Linked DNA regions of Homo sapiens: region 2 is linked to region 1. Evidence: fine-mapped expression QTL. Tissue or cell type: whole blood. Region 1 holds a variant in brackets; the other region holds the start of a gene. All regions are shown on one strand. Distances are from middle to middle.

Region 1 (5,760 bases):
CTGTTAACTCCATTACCTGCCTGGGAAATACCCAAGTCAAGTCTAAGTCCCACAAAAGTTTCACCAACTATGATCAGAAGATCTCCTGATGGCTGAGGATCTCTAAGCCCCTTTCCCATGTAGATAATGAAATAGATATGAAATAGATTCTCAGTTCTAGGAGACATGGTATTTGCTATAGACCACATTATTAAGTGGGAAAGAAGTGGACAAAACATGCCCCCAATCCAACTTCTTAGCTCTTTCATAGGACATGAAACAGTAAGTTAAGAAACAGACTGCAGTATAGACCAGCTATGAGGCCAACAGAAAGTGTAGGGGCTGAGTTTGGAGCAGCCAACAGTCATGGAAAAAAAAAAATTACTTTGATCTTCATCCCTACCCTGGGAGTTTTAAAAAGCTTCAAATTACCACATCTAAACACTAAAGGGAACAAAAGAGTGTGTACTCCCAAGACCCAGAGCCCCCAGCCCACCCTTCAGCATTCCCAGAAGTTCCCATAACTGATACCAGGCCCTGCTTCCATTACTTCAACTACCTTAGTCTTCTAGATTAATACAGCCTTCTTCATTTTCCCCAGTTCTCCCTCACTGAACCCAAATCTCTCTCAGCTCAACACCATAGCACCCTCAGTTCTTTTTACAATAGGCACTTTCCCTGAAAAGAACGCTTCTTACCCAACTAAGAACCCTTCTCAGGCCCTTCCAATGAACCTCTCTGCAGGGACCCAGCCCCAGTCACCCCCGGGGCTCGGGCGACAGGTCTGACCCTCCTCACCTCCCGGCAAATGGGCTTACCTCACCCGCTGCCCTGTTCCTTTCCCCAGCTCCTCCCTCTTCAGCGCTGCTTAATGAGGCCTGCCCCTGCCCTCACTCAAGCTCCAGGCCTCCAGCCCCCGGCCCTCGGCCTGGCCGCCGCCACAGCCCAGCCGCCTTCCCGACTCACCAACTTCGGGGTCCCAGGCCGCCCAGTCCCCTCCTCAGCGACCCCCATTAGGCCTGCCGGGGCCCGGCCCCCTTCTCCCCTCTCCGGTGGGCCACTCTAACCCCTCGCTTAGGACCAGACCCGCCTCCGCTCTCAGGCCAGGCTGCTCTCATCTCCCGGGCGCTTCCGCCCCTGCCCTTTGGGCTCCATCAGCTCGGTACCTGGGGCTCCGTCTCCCCCGTCGGCCCCAAGCCTGTGTCGAACAGACAAACAGCTGCAGCTCAACCAAACCCTCCTGCCCCTCCTTCTCCTCCTCGCCCTGGGGCGGGGCTCCAGCCAATAGCTCGATTACCCGCCTACCTTCGAGGGTGGGCTATATGTGCACTCATCCACCAATCCTCTGGAGAAAGGCGAGTCTCTTTGGGCGCTGTCACCAACAAGTACGAGCAAGGGACGCGACAGGCGGGGCCACAAGCCAATAGCGAGGGAGAAACCTCGAAGATGGACGAGGTAAGGAGCCATTAAAGAGCAAGCTCCTGAAGACAGGGGGCGGTACACTGCCGACAGGCGTATGTATCCACCAATAAAATCTCGACACCCCATGACCCCGCCTTTTGACTCATAAACATCTAATCAGGTGAGTGATGGAGGCGGGTCAAAGTGAAACTTTAACCAGTACTGCGAAAATACGGTACTTGACTGGCAGGCAAGGAGGGGTTGAAGGAAGCCTTAGGAAGGCCGCTACTGACCTTCGCCCCTCCCCCTGGACTTGGCTGGGGCTGGCTCTAGTGCCCTGCCTTCTATGACAAATTCGCGGGCGTAAAGGGAAATACCTCTTCTAGGGATCCGGAGCCTGGGAATTTAAGTAACCCTGACATCAGCGCTTCCTCCTTTTAGTGAGGCTTCAGTGGACAGGCGTATTTGGGGTGGCCGCGGGCGGTCTGAGATGTTTTTTGGTGGAATGAGACAATGGCAACTACAAGAAGTGGTAGCTTGGAGACGCTTTTTCAGAATCGTATGTAAATGTAAATAAAAGAATCTTTGGAAAACTTTTCTGTCTGTGATATGAAACAGAAAGGAAAAACGGCGGGCTTACTGGGAAATGCAGTGTCGAAAGGCAAATTCCCCGGGAGCCCTCTTCCTGCCGCTATGTATGTGCATGGGTGTGTGTATGTATGGGGTGTGTGTGCATATATGGTGTGTATGTGGTGTGTGTGTATTTGGTATATGTATACGTGGTGTGTGTGGTATATGTGTGTATATGATGTGTGTGTGGTGTGTGTATGTGATGTGTGTGTGGTGTGGTGTGTGTGTGGTATGTTGGCTGGGGGAAAGGAGGTTTGCTGGTGTGTGGAGAAAGTGAAGTAGGAAGTATATAGGCTTCAGTTTCCCCAGCCATAAATAGGGATGATAATAACCACTTTGTTCACCGTCAGCACTAGCCAAAATGGGGTGGGGTGGGCAGCCATGCACAGAGAGATTAGGAAAAGGGGTCTGAAATCAATGATCACATACACACATTCATATTCTGTCTCCCACCATTCTTTCAGTAAATAAGAGGAGGAAAGAGATGAACTATAAAACTAGGCACATTTTTTTAATGAGCTACAAACTAAATTACAAATAACGTTAATAGCAAGAGCACTCAAGGACAAGGGTGACAGAGACAAATCATAAAAAAAAAATGCTTTTTTTTTTTAGCACTGTCATTACAAAACCCCAAGGTGCACATGGCAACAAATCCACCCACTATGACCAAAAAAAAAAAAAAAAAGCCAACTCTACTATTGGATATAACCTGAAATATAAATATAATTGTTCATCCTTCTTTTAAAGAAATATTTTTACCCATGCCCTCACTCAATCACAGCCCTGAAAAAGTGTCAGCATTCTCAAAATGATGCCTAAACCCTAACTTCTAACTCCTATGGGGTAGGAGGTGGACGTCAGAGGAAAATGGGATCAGGGATCCTTGGCAACTGAACAACTAAGAATACTAAAAGGAAGAGAAAAATTCAAACATCTCTCACCTGCCTCATAAGGCCATGGTGAAGCAATAGATTGGAATGAAGCACAATCCCTGTCTCAGGGCCTCCCAGATTCCTCATGCCTGTAGAAGGGACAAACAAGGGGACTGGGGCCAATCATTTTTCTGCAGCCCCACCCGGGCTGAGTCTTCAGTCTCCCAGCCTATTAGGTGAGGCAAAACACTAACTAGGGTATAAACTGATTGGATCTATTTTTTCAACCGAATTCTTTAAAATAGACTCCTCCCAGTGGTTTTGTTTTACTTGGTTCTCAAAAGCACCAACTTAGCCCCCGCTATCATTTGGCCTTTATAAACATTGTGGCAGCAGGAGGCTTGGGATCCTGGTCATCCCAAACACTGGAAATAATAATTATGGGGCATTCAGAGATTGGTACGGCAAATCTAACGTGTAGGAA[G/T]GCTTTTTTAAAATTATTTTTATACCAACCCTCTTCAGCAATAACTAAGAGAAGGGGGAAAGGGTGGTGGAGGCTAACTTAAGTGCATCTAATACTGAAACTTCCTTTCATTTTCACTGGTTCCCCCCTTTCACCCCTGTATTCCCAGAGTTGGCTGGCCAAGACTAGAAGGTGAGTGTTTAAGGCAAGTTCAGAGGGCCCACCTGAGTCCAAATAGCCCAAGGCCAAGCCTGGTCAAGCCCACACTGGAGGAGAGGGTGAGATTAGGGCTGGGGGCTTCAAGAAGGCTATCAGAGTCGAAGATGGGGTACTGGCTTGGTCACATCCTGGAAGAAAGGGTGAGCCAGGGCTGCCTTGGCCGAAATCCGCTTGTTAGGGTCGTAGTGCAGCATTTGCTAGAGGGAGAGATGCATGTTGACTTCAATGATGTGATAGTGGACTAAATGGGCAGCAGGTGTTCCCAGAAATCAGGAAACCAGAACTCCTTCTACCCAAGGCAGAATTCTCACTTCCATCCTCCCATAGCTGAATCAGTGTGCCAACAGGGAGAGCAGGAACCAGGGAAATGAAACACTGAGGCCCAGATTTCAGGGTCTCATCCTTCCTTCATCCTGGAAAAGCCCTTCCCTGGGAGAAATGAATGAGGGAAAACAGGTGCCCACTCTCACCGATAACAAGCTCCGTCCATCTTCATCCAGGGGAGGTACAACTTTACTAAAATCTTGCCGGGCCCACTTGGGGAAACTTGGCTTGTAATCAGGCATAGAAGTAACTCCTGGCCACACCACCTCATCTGGGGTCCCCAGAGTCCGAAAGATCCGGAAGAGCTGGTCAATCTCAGAATCTCCAGGGAATAGGGCCCGGCGAGTCACCTGAAAATGGGGAAAGAGGAAATACCAAGACCCACGTTGACGTCAGTCAAAACTCTCCTCTATACAAAGGAGTTCCCACAGACAGTAAAAGGTCAGCAGGGCCCCATGACTCCCTCCCCAGGGCCTTTCATGGGGTCAGTCACACAGAACCTGAGACAATGAAGTTCCTTCATCTGTCTCCTCGCCCCCTCCTTCCTTCCCCCAACCATGGCTTTGCAGATCCCCAAGGCTGGGTGGGTCTGGGAGGGGGTGAATGTCTGGGGTGCCACTGACATGTAGCAAAGGTATCCCAAGCCACTCACGGGGTAGGGGGTAGACACTGCGGTCATCCCCCAACCTTGTGATGCAGCCACTTCTAGATACGAGCACAGCGGGCAGAGACTCTGTCTTCCATTTCTTCTGTGTTCCCCACAGCACCTAGCATGGTGCTGGGTACCCACTAGGTGCTTAACAAATATTTTTTGATGAATTGAGAGAGGAATACGGACAATTGTAAGGTAATGCACTGGGGGGATAAATGCACATTACATATGTATAGGCTAATGGTCTTTAAGCTCTTGGTTACAACCAAGATAAAAGACAATAAAACATATTGCTGATTTGAAGACAGCCTACTGCACCACTGTACTGTTATATTAAAGGAGATGGGAGCTTCTACATAAAGCCAGGCTTCAAGGATCCTTCAGTCTGAAAAGCCAGAGGTTGAAGGGGAACATGATCTAAATCTTTTTTTTTTTTTTTTTTTTTTTTTTTTTGAGATGGAATCTCATTCTGTCGCCCAGGCTGGAGTGCAGTGGTGCAATCTTGGTCACTGCAACCTCCATCTCCCGGGTTCAACCGATTCTCCTGCCTTGGCCTCCCAAGTAGCTGGGATTACAGGTGTGTAATCCCAAGTAGCCACACCTGGCTAATTTTTGTATTTTTAGTAGAGACAGGGTTTTAACATGTTGGCCAGGCTGGTCTCAAACTCCTGACCTCAGGTGATCCACCTACCTCAGCCTCCCAAAGTGCTGGTATTATAGGTGTGAGCCACTGCACCCTGCCTAAATCTGCAGTTTAAATGAAAGGTGTGGGTAAAGTGACCACAGTTGTCTTCACTACATTGCTGGCACCATACAACAAGGTCTACAAGCCTTGAAATGAAGGCCTGAAATAAAAGAGGCACTAAATGGAATCATTCTCCCAAATATATGCAGACTACAGCTAAAACAGCTGCAGAAATGCTTTAACTTATTTCAGGGATAAGAGATGTATACCAGGTACTAAGGCTGTTTGAGGATATCCTAACACTGTGGTTGATATCAGGGCAACAGTTGCATCCTTTCCCACCATTCCCCTTGGTGCTACTTTAGAGAGAGAACCCTGTGATAGAAGGGCCATAGGTCTGGGCCAAGAAGCAGTTCTGTTGTTCTTGGATGTGGGGAGGAGAGGGAGGGGGCTGGGTGGAACTTGGGCAAGCCTCCATACCATCTCAGCAAAGATGCAGCCCAGGCTCCAGATGTCCACAGCTGTGGAATAA
Region 2 (5,380 bases), 69 kb before region 1:
AATAAGCTTTCTTCCCCATGAAAATAATGTGTGTCACTTCACACTTGGTCTAACACACAAAATCCCCACCTTATCTGGCACAGATACACTTAACATGCAATATTAAGTACAATTTCCATTTTATTTTTCTCCAGAGAATAGCCTGTCTTCAGTCTTTAAGAACTCAGCTCCTTACATGGGCTTTGGTGGGGGACGTGGGGCAGCACCCTGAAAGACAAAGAAACAAAAGAGTAAATTAAAACCCATGGATCCAAGACTCCCTTCCCCCAAAGAACTTGACCACCATCCTCTCACAAACTGATGTATTCAGGCTACAAATGCATGGGAAGCTGATAGAGGTGGAGGGAGAACACTACTCTGCATCCTAAAAACCAATTCTGATTCTAACACTGCTTTGCAGTGTCTCTAAGCATGTTCAGGTGTGGGTCTCACCTGCCTTACAGCTTAACCTGAGGCACAGACCTTAATTTGATACCCCCTGCACCACAGGAGGAAGCAACTTTTTTTTTTTTTTAAGAGACAAGGTCTCACTTTTGCCCTGGCTGGAGCGCAAGTGGTATAATCATAGCTCACTGCAACCTCAAACTCCTGGGCTCAAGTGATCCTCCTGCCTCAGCCTCTCGAGCAGCCAGACTATAGGTTCACACTATCATGCTTGGCTTCCTTCTCAATATTTTTTGAAGAGATGGGGTCTTGAACTGCTGGTTTCTAGCAATCTTCTTGTCCCAGCCTCCCAAAGTGTTGAGGTTACAGGTATAGGACACCCTGACCCTCCAGGATGAAATTTTAACCATCACTCCCCTGGCTTCCATTCTCCTTTTAAAATACTCACCGCAGGTCTAAATCGGGGTGGGGGTGTTCGGTCCTTGCGGGCTTCACGAGATCGATTCCTGACTACTTTGCTGTGAATTGCACAACTCACACAGTAATGTAGCTTCACATACAGCTTGGGAAGCACATAGGCTAAGGAATAGAAAATAGAGTTATACTGGTATTATATACCTACCTTGCTTTTTTGTTACATGAATGAAGAGCACCTTACATGTTTACGTCAATTAAAACTAAACCTATTTAAATGCCTGTCGGGCACATAAAAGCACCCCCAAAGCACCTGTTCAGCCCAATACCTGAGCACATATGTATAACCCTCAGTTTTACAAGTGAATTAACATCCCACGTGAGTTCATCTTGACACCGCAAGGACCAGACTGACATTCTAAATGCAATAAACCAATAATCCAGTTCCTTCTACACCTACACCCGCCCTAATGCCTACCCTGAACCTTGCTCTTTCTATAAAAGGAAAAAAACAAAGCGACGTTCTTATTGCTCCAAACATCATCCTTGCACACCAAACTAGACGGCCTCCATTCTCGAAACGTTGAAGACATTCTTCCTCACCTGTATATTTTCACAAATATTCAAATAATCAATAGCACAAGAATTGTCAAATTTACCAAGTTTCTAGTTTTTGCAATCTCATAACCGAAACAGGCAAACCTTTACCTCAGAGTAAAGGCTGTGCACTCTATCACAAAGTCACCCTCTGCCCAGAAAAGAATCAAAACGGCAAACAAGAGAATTCTCTTCTACCAGTAACAACCTTAAATACGTGGAAATTGCCTGAGAGGCTCCAAAGAACAGAGCCTCCAAAAGGGCGAAGTTGGGCGAAGGCTTTAAGATACTGGGATCCTCACACAGTTCGCGCCGGTGACCCACTTACCATCGAAGACGCTCGCTTCAGAAATGTCCCTGACTGCTGCGGCCTCCACTATGTTTCGAATGACGAATTTCTTAATGGCCTTGTCCTTGGGCACGCATCGGGCACAGTTAGTGCAGCGAATAGGCTGCACGTGGCCGCGGCCCTTTTTGGCACGACCATTGTTCCTTCTTTTCTTTGTCTGCGACAGGATGGGAAAACTGTTAGGAAAACGGCGCAACTCACCCAGCCTCAGTCCCTTTCCGGCCACAAGCCGCACCGGCAGCCTCCAGGAAGGCGCCGCTCGGATCTCCTGTTTCTCCGCAAATCCCGCCGACCCCCAGAGCAAATGAAATGTACACTCGGTCCACCCCTCAGCCGTGCTCCAGGCTCTCACTTCCCCACAATCCCAGAGTCTGCACCCGAACCCCCACCCTCACCACGCAAGAAGACTCACCATCTTGGAGGCACGGACCGGAGAGAGGAGACGGTGCCTGGCAGGGCCCTCCTATATAGCATGAGATCCCTACGCGGACACCGGGAGAATCCTTAGGAGACGGGCTTCAAGAACGGCAACTCACTTTACTCAAATATTCCTTTACATTCAGCATTTCTGCTGAAATCTAGGGTGGAAATGCGTTCCTAGTGTTTATTTATCCATGGAACAAAGTGCACATGGGACTATTTAGCCGGATGGCGGAAGAAAATCGAGGTTATGTGTCTCCCAGCAAGCCTTGCGCCGCGCCGACTCGGAAGCAATTCTGGACGATGCAGTTTTCCGGTATACGCGACGCTAGGCGTGAAAGTTGCCAGACGCTGGACCACAAGGCGCACTCGTTATTAGAGGCCAGAGAGGGACAGATGCTTGGTGGGAATTGTAGTGCGAAGCCAAGAGGCTCCCCCCTCCCCCCCTTCCCCCCTGCCCCAAGTGCTTAGACCGAAGGCGGCGCTGCGCCACCGGGGGACGCCCTGGGCTCATTTCTCTGACAGTCCTTCTACTAGGTAGGTGTAGGATTACGAAGAGGAAGGCCTGAGAGGAAACAAGCATTTTGTGAATCCCTCCTTCCAATATGGAGAAAATCCCACAATGAAGTGCATTGAGGCTGGGGCTATTTCTCATTCATCTTTTTATCTCTGGCACAGTGCCTGGCCCTGTGGTAAGCGTCTTTATAAATATTAACTCATTTAACTTTGAGCAAGCCTATAGGTAGCTACTATTATTATCCTCACTTTAAAGATTGAAGAATTTAGCCCGGCCTGGTGGTGGGCGCCTGTAATCCCAGGTACTCAGGAGGCTAAGACAGGAGAATCTTGAACCTGGGAGGCGGAGTTTCCAGTGAGCCGAGATCGCGCCACTGCACTCTAGCCTGGGTAAAAAGATCGAAACTCTGTCTCAAAAATAAATAAATCAATTAAAAAAAAAGATTGAAGAACTGACGTGCAGTAGGTATTCTGGCTCCGCTGTACTATGCTGTATGTCACCTAACAAATGGATGGAGGAATAGCCTGGACTAATGACTTAAACGTTTTTCACCCAGATTCATAGCACGAATACATTTTACATTGGTACCCAGTACACACACAAACACGATTACATGCACATGCAAAACTGAAACACAAGCTTTATGAAACGATACTTACCCTTGTCATAGGTGTGCTGGTATGTTCTATTCTTTATTTTTACTTAATCTTTCTGTTCTCTATTTTAATAAATGCTGATCAAAAACCACGAAAATTATTTCACCACTCATTAGTGAATCTGACCCCTAATTGAAAGATTATGTGTAAGCTCCATTTACCTCTGAAGAGCCATCGGAAAGACTTAAGCCTTAGGCTGGGTGCAGTGGCTCACGCCTGTAATCCCAACACTTTGGGAGGCCAAGGCAGGCGGATCACCTGAGGTCAGGAGTTCAAGACCAGCCTAGTCAACATAGTGACACCCCACCTCTACTAAAAATATAAAAATTAGGCCTGGTGGCGCACACCTGTAATCCCAGCTACTCGGGAGACTGAGACAGGAGAATTGCTTGCACCCGGGAGGCAGAAGTTGCAGTGAGCTGAGATTGGGCTACTGTGCTACAGTCTGGGCAATAGAGCGAAACTCTGTCTCAAAAAAAAAAAAAAAAAAAGCAAGCAAGCTTCAGCCTGGCAGGAATGGCTGTCCACAGCCAACCACCCAGTTGTCTCCAAAGTTGAAGACACTAGGGTGGCAAGGGGACCTCCTAGCATTCAGACCCAGGATGGTACAGATGGAAACCATTGTTCATTTATGACTCACTCTAGAGTTTGAACACACCAGATTCACCTTCCCTCCAGCAACCCATCATGGTTTCTTTTAACCTTTAACCCACTTCTTGGGGCTAAAATCTGTTTTCTTACTTTCTTTTTTCTTTTCCTTTCTTTTTTTATTTTTATTTTTGAGACAGACTCTTGCTCTGTCACCCAGGCTGGAGTGCAGTGGTGCCATCTCAGCTCACAGCAACCTCTGCCTCCCGGGTTCAAGCGATTCTTCTGCCTCAGCCTCCCGAGTAGGTGGGACTACAGGTGGGCGCCACCATGCCCAGCTAATTTTTGTATTTTTAGTAGAGACAGGGTTTCACCATGTTGGCTGGGACAGTCCCGATCTCTTGACCTCGTGATCCATCCACCTCAGCCTCCCAAAGTGCTGGGATTATAGGTGTGAGCCACTGCACCCGGCCCCAGCTAATTTTTGTATTTTTAGTAGAGATAGGGTTTCGCCATGTTGCCCAGGCTGGTCTCGAACTCCTGAGCTCAGGATATCCACCCGACTCGGCCTCCCAAAGTGCTAGGATTACAGGCGTGAGCCACTGTGCCCAGACTTTTTTTTTTTTTTTTCAGATGGAGTCTTGCTCTGTTGCCTAGGCTGGAGTGCAGTGGTGCGATCTTGGCTCACTGCAACCTCCGCCTCCTGGGTTCAAGCGATTCTTCTGCCTCAGCCTCCCAAGTAGCTGGCACTACAGGCACGTACCACCATGCCCGGCTAATTTTTTGTATTTTAGTAGAGACGGAGTTTCACCATGTTGGCCACATGGTCTTGATCTCCTGACCTCGTGATCCGCCTGCCTCAGCCTCCCAGAGTGCCAGGATTACAGGCATGAGCCACTGTGCCCAGCGCTTTTTTTTCTTTTTTAAGATGGGTCTGGAGGCTGCAGTGGCATGATCACAGTTCAGTGCAGGCTTGACCTCCTGGGCTCAAGTGATCCTGCCGTCTCAGCTTTCCGAGTAGCTGGGACTACAGGCATGCACCACCATGCCTAGCTAATTTTAAAATTTCTTGTAGAGATGGTGTTGCCCTGTGTTGCTGAGGCTGTTCTCAAACTCCTAGGCTCAAGTGATCCTCCCAAGTAGCTGGGAGGACAGGTGTCCTCCACCACTTCCAGCTTTCCTGTCTGTTTTGACTTTGAATTTGCCAGTTTCAGTGGGACATGGAAAATAATAGACTCTAGATAGGAGTGTCTCTAATTTTCACTTCACTGTAATCTTGTGGAAAACAGAAGGCAGACATTACTATATGGAATAGCAATGAGGTAGATGGAAGAGAACATAAAAAAGTTCAGAGTGAAGAGAACAGAAAATAGTTACTATTTAAGACAGAAACAAATTTATGTTCCTACTTTGGATTTTTCTAGCTTAGGGGTTTCACTGGCTGCATTCCCTGGC

The links. PIP is the estimated chance that this variant, and not a neighbour inherited with it, causes the effect.
Region 2: RPS26 starts here. The variant in region 1 is fine-mapped to the expression of RPS26 in whole blood (INTERVAL, PIP above 0.99).

The regions. Positions count from the first base shown.
Region 1 is chr12:55,969,525-55,975,284 of GRCh38, reverse strand. CDK2 (cyclin dependent kinase 2) reads right to left here. Exons shown (of 7, transcript NM_001798.5): 5 at 5,709-5,760; 6 at 4,038-4,241; 7 at 2,496-3,764. The coding sequence ends at 3,660. RAB5B (RAB5B, member RAS oncogene family) reads right to left here and starts at 1,207. Exons shown (of 6, transcript NM_002868.4): 1 at 1,146-1,207. RefSeq lists an enhancer at 1,314-1,463. The variant G/T (reference allele first, on the strand shown) is at 3,370.
Region 2 is chr12:56,038,946-56,044,325 of GRCh38, reverse strand. RPS26 (ribosomal protein S26) reads right to left here and starts at 2,408. Exons shown (of 4, transcript NM_001029.5): 1 at 2,157-2,408; 2 at 1,724-1,901; 3 at 833-963; 4 at 1-207. The coding sequence starts at 2,159. The coding sequence ends at 172. RefSeq lists enhancers at 1,720-1,979, 2,120-2,449, 1,898-2,687 and a silencer at 2,600-2,659.